Homo sapiens: one gene and its partner. The protein of the gene in region 2 interacts with the protein of the main gene of each other region in a pairwise test. Each region holds a gene or a part of one and is shown on either strand. Other genes may lie near its edges. The genes, in order: ATP13A1 and SYPL2.

The links.
Region 1: the proteins of SYPL2 (region 2) and ATP13A1 interact in binary tests that used the Homo sapiens proteins (3 or more experiments, as listed by UniProt).

Annotation. Positions count from the first base shown.
Region 1 is NC_000019.10:19,653,511-19,657,320, forward strand, and holds part of ATP13A1 (endoplasmic reticulum transmembrane helix translocase), read right to left. Parts: intron 3,640-3,810; coding exon 3,484-3,639; intron 3,407-3,483; coding exon 3,337-3,406; intron 3,257-3,336; coding exon 3,150-3,256; intron 2,674-3,149; coding exon 2,544-2,673; intron 2,424-2,543; coding exon 2,368-2,423; intron 2,145-2,367; coding exon 2,018-2,144; intron 1,944-2,017; coding exon 1,806-1,943; intron 1,730-1,805; coding exon 1,609-1,729; intron 1,191-1,608; coding exon 1,033-1,190; intron 635-1,032; coding exon 459-634; intron 385-458; coding exon 274-384; intron 1-273. UniProt on the Homo sapiens protein: Endoplasmic reticulum translocase required to remove mitochondrial transmembrane proteins mistargeted to the endoplasmic reticulum.
Region 2 is NC_000001.11:109,472,736-109,476,545, forward strand, and holds part of SYPL2 (synaptophysin-like protein 2), read left to right. Parts: intron 1-2,845; coding exon 2,846-2,970; intron 2,971-3,810.

The DNA of each region.
Region 1 (3,810 bases), on a different chromosome or scaffold from region 2:
CCAAGACCAGGGCAAAAGAGTAGAGCTAGGGACACACCAGGACTGGGGCAGGTAAGCCCTGCGTGTGCTCTGCGTGAGCCAGGACTGGGTGGGTCCCCACAGCAGTGGACAGACTGAGTGCCATTTGGAGTCTCCAAAGGTAGAAGCTGGAGGCGGGGCAAGGAGGACAAAATCACAACCATTCAACCTGGCACTGTGGGACACAGGAGGTGACTCAGGGAGGAGCTGACGGGCCAGGCACATGGTGAAGGCAGGGGGAGCCTGGGCCCGTACCTGCTGGTGAGTGAGGTGTCCCAGCTCCTTGTACCCCAGCGCCAGGACGCGGGCTCCTTCCCGGGAGATCTCGGTGTGGATGTGGTGGTAGTCGGGCGGGCACTGGGAGAACTGCAGGGAATGCAGGGGGATGTCACGGGCTGCCCCGCGCCCCCACCCCTTGCCCCAGGCTGGGGCCAGCTCACCATGGAGTGCAGAGTTTCGGGGGCCCCCTTCACGGCCGCGATGTAGCAGAGGTCGGTGGAGCCCAGCTTCTCATACGAGGCAAGCACGGACATTCGCTTCAGGGCACTGGCAAAATGAAAGCGCTGGTGAATTTTCAGCCCCTGAGTTTTAATACTTCGGGGGAATACTTTCTCATCTGGAAACAAATAAGTACGAGTCCTGAGGGGCTTTGCTCCAAAGAGGCAGCCAAGCCCCTACCTCTCACCCCGGCCTCCCCCACCTCCCTCCTGCCTCCCCCAGGGCCTGATCGGGGCTCTGGGCTAGAGCAGGTGTTGGTCCAGAGCTGGAAGACCTGGGCTTGGAGGACCCTGGCACTGTGGCTTCGGCCAGGGCAGGGCAGATTCCAACCCAGAGGGACACCCAAGGACGTGGCCTATCCTGGGTCTAAAGTGAGCCTCTGGCCACCCACCTCGGGGAGCATCAGAGCTGTAGGCCTGCCTGTCCCCAAGATGCTCTGAGGGGTGCAGCCCACCTGCCTAGGGCTGTGAGAGCCAGTGGCTCCCCCTTGCTGGGCCTGAGGCCCCAGCCCCTCACCTTTGGTCAGCGTCCAGTCCACGGCCGTCAGCATGGCCTTCTCTAGAGGGTCACCCACGAGGGTGCCGTCGTCCAGCTGCATGAGCGAGTGGCACGAGGCCAGGGCCCGGTGTGTTTCTACAGGGATGCTGGACACTGGGGTCACCTCCTTCCCGTCTCTGCAAGGTCGGGGAACAGCTGGTTACAGAGTGCAGGCGGGTAGGGCGAAGCTGCATCCCCACCAGCAGAAGGACCCCCAAGGCCATTCATTCCGTGCTTGTCACTGGGGTGGCTTGGGCGCCAACTGGGTCTTTATGAGACCTGCACCTGCTTCACAGATGCCCCCAGAAGCCAGGCATTGTGCCTGGGGGTCATGTGGTGCATGGCTGGTGTGGGATGTTCCAGGCCTGAGCTGAGCCCCCGTGCCGCTACCATGGCTGACACCCAGGACTTTGTGGGGAGCCCCTGGAAATGAACCCGAGGCAGGGCCTCTGACGGGCCCTCACTGCAAGGGCTTGGGGTGGATGGGCCACCTGTCTCTCGACTTCCCAGAAACCCCATCTGGGTGACCTTTGCTGCAGGGCCCCTGATGCTTACCTCAGCCCGGCCACACCGCGCACCACCAGGCTGTCACTGGTCAACGTCCCCGTCTTGTCAAAGCAGCACACCTCGACCTTGCCAGCAAAGGGGATCCGGAAGGGCTCTGTGCAGTACATGTCTAGGGGCGGGAGTGAGGTCAGGGGTCCTGCTTGGCCCCAGCCCACTCGGCACCCCATCCCATTTGACACACTCACAGAGCTTGGCCAGGGCGATGAGGGAGGTGTTGACGGCCAGGGACAGCTCGATGGGCAGCTCAGGAGGCACGACCGAGGTGAGGATCAGGGTGCACTCCAGAAACAGCTTGTAGCGGTTCCGGCTGGGGTCCTTGGTACCTGTGGAGACAGGGCCTGCCAACCTGGAGCCTCGGAGGGTGGGCGCAGGGGACCACAGAGGCCGTGGCGCTTACCTTCAATCCATACATAGGCAGCTGCAGCGATGGCAAACACCAGGAGGAAGAGGATGAAGATGAAGGTCTCCAGGTTGTTCGCAGTCACCCTCTTGACCCCGAAGAGGATGGTGCGCAGCAGCTTGCCCTGGAGGAATGGAGGAACAGCCTTTCTGCTGTCTGGACTCCCTCCAGCAGCTCAGGCCTGGAAGCGTGGGCCTGGTCTTGGGGTGGCCTCTGCACCCTGGCCCAGGTCCAGGGCCGTGCTGCCAGAGTCAGCCCGTGGGGCAGATGTTCTGGGGTCGGAAAGGGCTGATACCTTGGCTGTCCAACTGCCCTGGGGCCCGCCCTCCCCAGACCTGGCCCCGCACCTGGGATGTGTTGAATCCGGTCCGCAGGACGTAGGCCACGCACCCGCTGTCAACCGCTGGGGAGAGAAGCAGAGTCACCGTCATGCCTGTCTCCTCGTCCTGACTCCCTCATGATCAAGCAGACGGGCAAAGGGGGTGGAAGCCCAGATACCCCCAGACGCCCATGAGGCACCTACGCTTCAGGCCCGTGGTGGCTTTCTGTGGGGGGATGTGCTGCACCACCTTGGTGCCCCCGAAGATGACGTGCAGCCGGGAATCAGCCTGGAGGTCCAGCACCCGGTCTGGGCTGAGGTCTTCGATGGGCTCCTGGGGAGGAAGATCGTGAATCTGGATGGCCAGGCCTACCTTGCTTCCTTCTCCATCTGAGTTCCTGGACAGCTGGACCTTGAGGCTGGAATGAGCCAGGGGGATCCCCACCCGACCAATACATCCCACCCAGCTCCCAGATCCTCACCCTCACCCCGTCCTGTCTTCTCCCCATTGCACTCACAGTGCCTGCTCTCTGGGGCCTGCACTTGGCCTCGTCTGGGACTCACCCCTCTGGACTGCTCCCAGCCCACCTTGGTCTGACATCCCAGGGCACCAATGTACCCTGGATGCCCTTGGCTCTCTCACCTCCTTCCTCGCCCCCACCACCCGGCTCCCCAGTCCACAGAGCTCATCTGTGCCCACACTGCCTCCTCCGCCTGTGCCTGAGGGGGATCCCCGCCACCCCCTGGGCCTCCACCTCCTGGCCTGTTTCCTCCTGAACAGCTTGAGGATCCCCATCCTCCACCAAGTACCTTCATCTGTGGCACGGACTCCCCCGTGAGCATGGCCTCGTCTACGATGCAGCGGCCTCGCAGCAGAAGCACGTCACATGGCACCAGGTTCTCCTGTGGGGAGCGGCCTGCAGGGCAGAGGCAGGAGGGTTGGCCAGAGGCCCTGAGGCTGGGGCTCCCACTGGGACTGAGCGGAACCCGGCCTCACCGATGGAGACGATGTCCCCTGGTACGATCTCATCACTGGCAATGGGCCTCCACTTGCGGCTTCGGTAGACCTGGGCGGGGCATGGGTGTCAGCACAGAAGCCGCACCTGTGCTGCACCCCCAACCTGGGTCTCCCTGGCAGCCACACCTGGATCATGTGGGGCTTGTTGCCCATCTTCCGGATCTCCGACATGTTCCGCATCTGCTGCTGCACCAGCGAGGCCTCGAACGCCACCAGCATGGATAGCGTAAAGACGCTGTAGTACCAGTACTCATCCAGGCACCAGAGCCCCACACAGAACACCTGTGGGATACCAGCCTGTCTGTCCTTGCCCTACCCGCCCTGTTCCCATGAGCCCCTTCCACCCACCGGATCTGATATGTGAGGGTGGGGAGAGGCTTCCAGGTTTAGAAGTGGTGGGCAGGCTTGATCCGGTTAGGAAAGCCCCAAGGGAGGAAATGGGGAGATGGGCCA
Region 2 (3,810 bases):
TGAGTAACTGGGACTATTAGCAGGCACCACCATGCCCAGCTAATTTTTTGTTTGTAGTTTCTGTAGGGGAGGGTCTTGCTATGTTGCCTATATGTTGCTAGTCTCAAATTCCTGGGCTCAAGCCATTCTCCTGCTTGGCCTCCCAAACTGCTGGGATTACAGCTGTGAGCCACCATGCCCGGCCCCTGCTTTCTTAAGGAACCTATAAGGAGCCATTCACTGACTAACTGCCAACGGGTAAAAATATTTCCAACTGTGCTGCCCTTCCCAGAATGTGACACCCTAATCACATCCAGTTCTGGGCACCAGAAGCTAAGAGGAATAAAGAAACTTCTAAGAGGAATCAGATGGCCACAGAACTGACAAAAGATTAGCGAATTCCTATGAGGAAGAGTTAGAGAAGTTCCACTATTACAATGGTGAGGCCACTTTGAGTAAGTAAAGGGTAATGATGCAGAGGCTTCGAGTGACTCTTCTCTACCTCTGTGAAGAAGGCGGGCAGACAGGGCTCTACTGCAGTCTTCATCATTTAATTCAGGAGAGGAGGGTATTTAGGCATTGGAGGGAGGTTTTACTGTCTTCTTTCCCAGATATCTTTAAACATGGAGACAATTCTCATTTGTCTGGAATAAACCTCCTGAAAACAGAGAGGTGCCCATTATTTGGAGAGAGGCCAATGGCTCCAGCATGGAGATCTGCAAGGCCAGGCGCTGCAAGCCGGGGGCAGTGGCACTGGACACCTCGCAGGGGCAAAGCACAGCTGTTGGCAAGCCCAGTCAAGAGTACACTGACAGTGTTACTCTCAGAGAGTGAGAGAGTTCCAGGGCTGGAAAGGGCCTCTAGATTATCTACTCCAAACCCCTCCATTTAAGATGAGGAAACAGGCTGGGCTCATGCCTATAATCCCAGCACTTTGGGAGGTTGAGGCGGGCGGATCACAAGGTCAGGAGACCGAGACCATCCTGGCTAACACGGTGAAAACCCGTCTCTACTAAAAAAAATACAAAAAATTAGCTGGGCATGGTGGTGGGCGCCTATAGTCCCAGCTACTCAACAGGCTGAGGCAGGAGAATGGTGTGAACGCAGGAGGTGCAGCTTGCAGTGAGCCAAGATTGCGCCACTACACTCCAGCCTGGGCGACAGAGCAAGACTCCATCTAAAAAAAAAAAAAAAGATGAGGAAACAGACTCAGAGAGCAGAGTGACTTATCAGAGCTCACCTGGCTAATTAGTGACAGGACCAGGTCTGGAACCTAGGTTTCCATACTCCTAGTTCAGGTCTCCTTTCACTCCATAATGCTAACAAGCATTGGCAAAATAAAGTGCATATAGCTTCTATTCTAGACTCTGGATGCAGGGCTGACATACAGATCAGCTGTCTTCCAAGTGCTTAATGTCCAAGACACTGAGTCTCGAAGAAAGATACAGAGAGTGAACAATTAAGAGAATAAGCTCATTGCTTAATAAGAACATGACATTGTGTACAAGTCAAAGGTAAGTGCACAGGAAATCCAATCTGAGCAGATGATGTGGAGGATAAGACATTTCAATTTCTCACCTCCTTTTCTTTTTTCTTTTCTTTTCTTTTCTTTTTTTTTTTTTTTTTGGCGGTGGGCGGGAGAGGGACAAGGTCTCATTCTGTTGCCAGGCTGGAGTGCAGTGGCACGATCTCGGCTCACTGCAACCTCCGCCTCCCGGGTTCAAGTGATTCTCCTGCCTCAGCCTCCCAAGTAGCTGAGATTACAGGCATGCGACACTCTACCGCCAGGCTGATTTTTGTATTTTTAGTAGATATGGGGTTTCACCATGTTGGCCAGGTTGGTCTCAAACTCCTGACCTCAAATGATCCACCCGCCTCAGCCTCCCAAAGTGCTGGGATTACAGGTGTGAGCCACCGCACCTGGCCTCTCACCTCCTTTTCTAACCAAAGTGTGTTTCCCAGAAAGAAATCTGAAAATCATAGGATGAGGAAATTTTATTTCACTTGAGAGAGAAGGTGTAGTAAAATGTGAGGAAAGGTGGAGAAGAAAACAATTCGAGTGACCTGAGACACCTCTGGATCTTAACACTGAGAAATGGCAGCATCAACAGATGACAAAGGGAAATACCAGTGGGGAAACAGTGGAGACTGATAAGGCAAGTGGAGGGTACTTTTCTCTGGGCTTGAGCCAAGATTGTCACATTGGCCCAGCCAGCACTATTGCTAGAAGGCCATGTGCCTTTTGGGGAAGAGGAATTAGGCTGTCAGTACTATGGGACAGTAGTATGGCCCATCTGGGGTGGCTTGGTAGAAGCTGGCCCCTCCAGCTATACCTCCACCAAGGCAGGAAGCCACTGGAAGTTAGCAACTAGGAAACAAGATTAGATGACTAGTTCAAAGGAGAAATGAAAAGCGTTCTAGGCATGTCTGATCTAGGTTGATGCAGGGGAATCTTTTTGAGTGTGTCTCTCCCTTGGGAAGGAAATTCAAGTCTATCTGTAAGCTAGAAGTTTCCTAAAGCCTGAATTGCAGAGGTTTTGTGTTAGTCATCTTAAGGAGGCTACCTGTGGTCCCCAAGTCATGCCCAATGGAGAGATCTGGCAACTGTCCATTTCCTGCCTCTTCATCTCCCTTGCAGACACCACTCAGTCAACCTTGTATTCATTTGGCTATTTGGTCCAGCAGCCTGAGGCTGGAAGATAAATGGAAGCCATGGGTTTCTACCTAGGAAGAACTTGATTAAAGGGGATCCTCACTCTCCCCCACTCCCGCACTTAATGTCTGCACCTGCGGGGAGTCACGGTTAGTTCTCGACTTTGGCCAGTTGAGGCCTTCTGACTCTCAAAGAGGCTTCACTCTCTCTCAGCTCTTTGCTATTTTCGCCTTCGGGTCCTGTGGCTCCTACAGCGGGGAGACAGGAGCAATGGTTCGCTGCAACAACGAAGCCAAGGACGTGAGCTCCATCATCGTTGCATTTGGCTATCCCTTCAGGTGAGCAAGAATTGGTTCCAACCCAGCACATCATCTCTCACTTGACTGGCAGGACCTGCTTGGTCTCTTCCTCCTCCAGAAACCTAAAAACCATTCATTGCGTGCCACTCCAGATTCAAATAGAATGACAAAACTTAGATCCTTTCTGCTTTTTAGCAATTTCAGACACATTGACCAGAGCAAAACGTAAGGGAAATACAGATTGATCACTGTTATAATAATGTTCCAGTCCATGGACAACCCATGGCAGGTCACACCAGCTCATACAGAAAGAGCCAATGCAGTTTGGGATGGAGGCTTACAGGAACCTGGACAAGCTGGACAGGTCTCTCTGACCCTCAGTAGCCTCCTCTCTGCCTTGAAGGTAGGGAAGCTTATTAGTACTTACATCCTAAAGAGTTGATGTGGGATCCTCAGCCAGTACGACCAGGATACAAGTGGGCACACCTTGACAGGGAGGTAGAAGTGATCTCTTTTCTGGGTATTTGAGAGCTTAGGAAGTAGGGAGCCCAGGTGTTCAGGGGAAAATGGGGATGAGGCTCACCTTTTCAGAAATTTCTAGTATCAGCACCCAAGTTATATTAACTGTCTCATATATAATAGGCTGTGTTTTTCTCTTTAATTTGTCCACTGTCTCATTGGAAAGCCCAATAAAGCCTGAGAATGGGTGATTCCAACCTTATCTTGGCCACTCTGGGCCTGCACTTTCCAGAGGCAGAATGAAGCTGATCTGCCTAGTGGTTTGGCTACCAGAAAGAGAAGAACTACATATATTGCAGTTGTGACCTAAAGGGCCCTGGAGACACTTGGGAATACATGGTCACCATGTCTGGGCAGGGT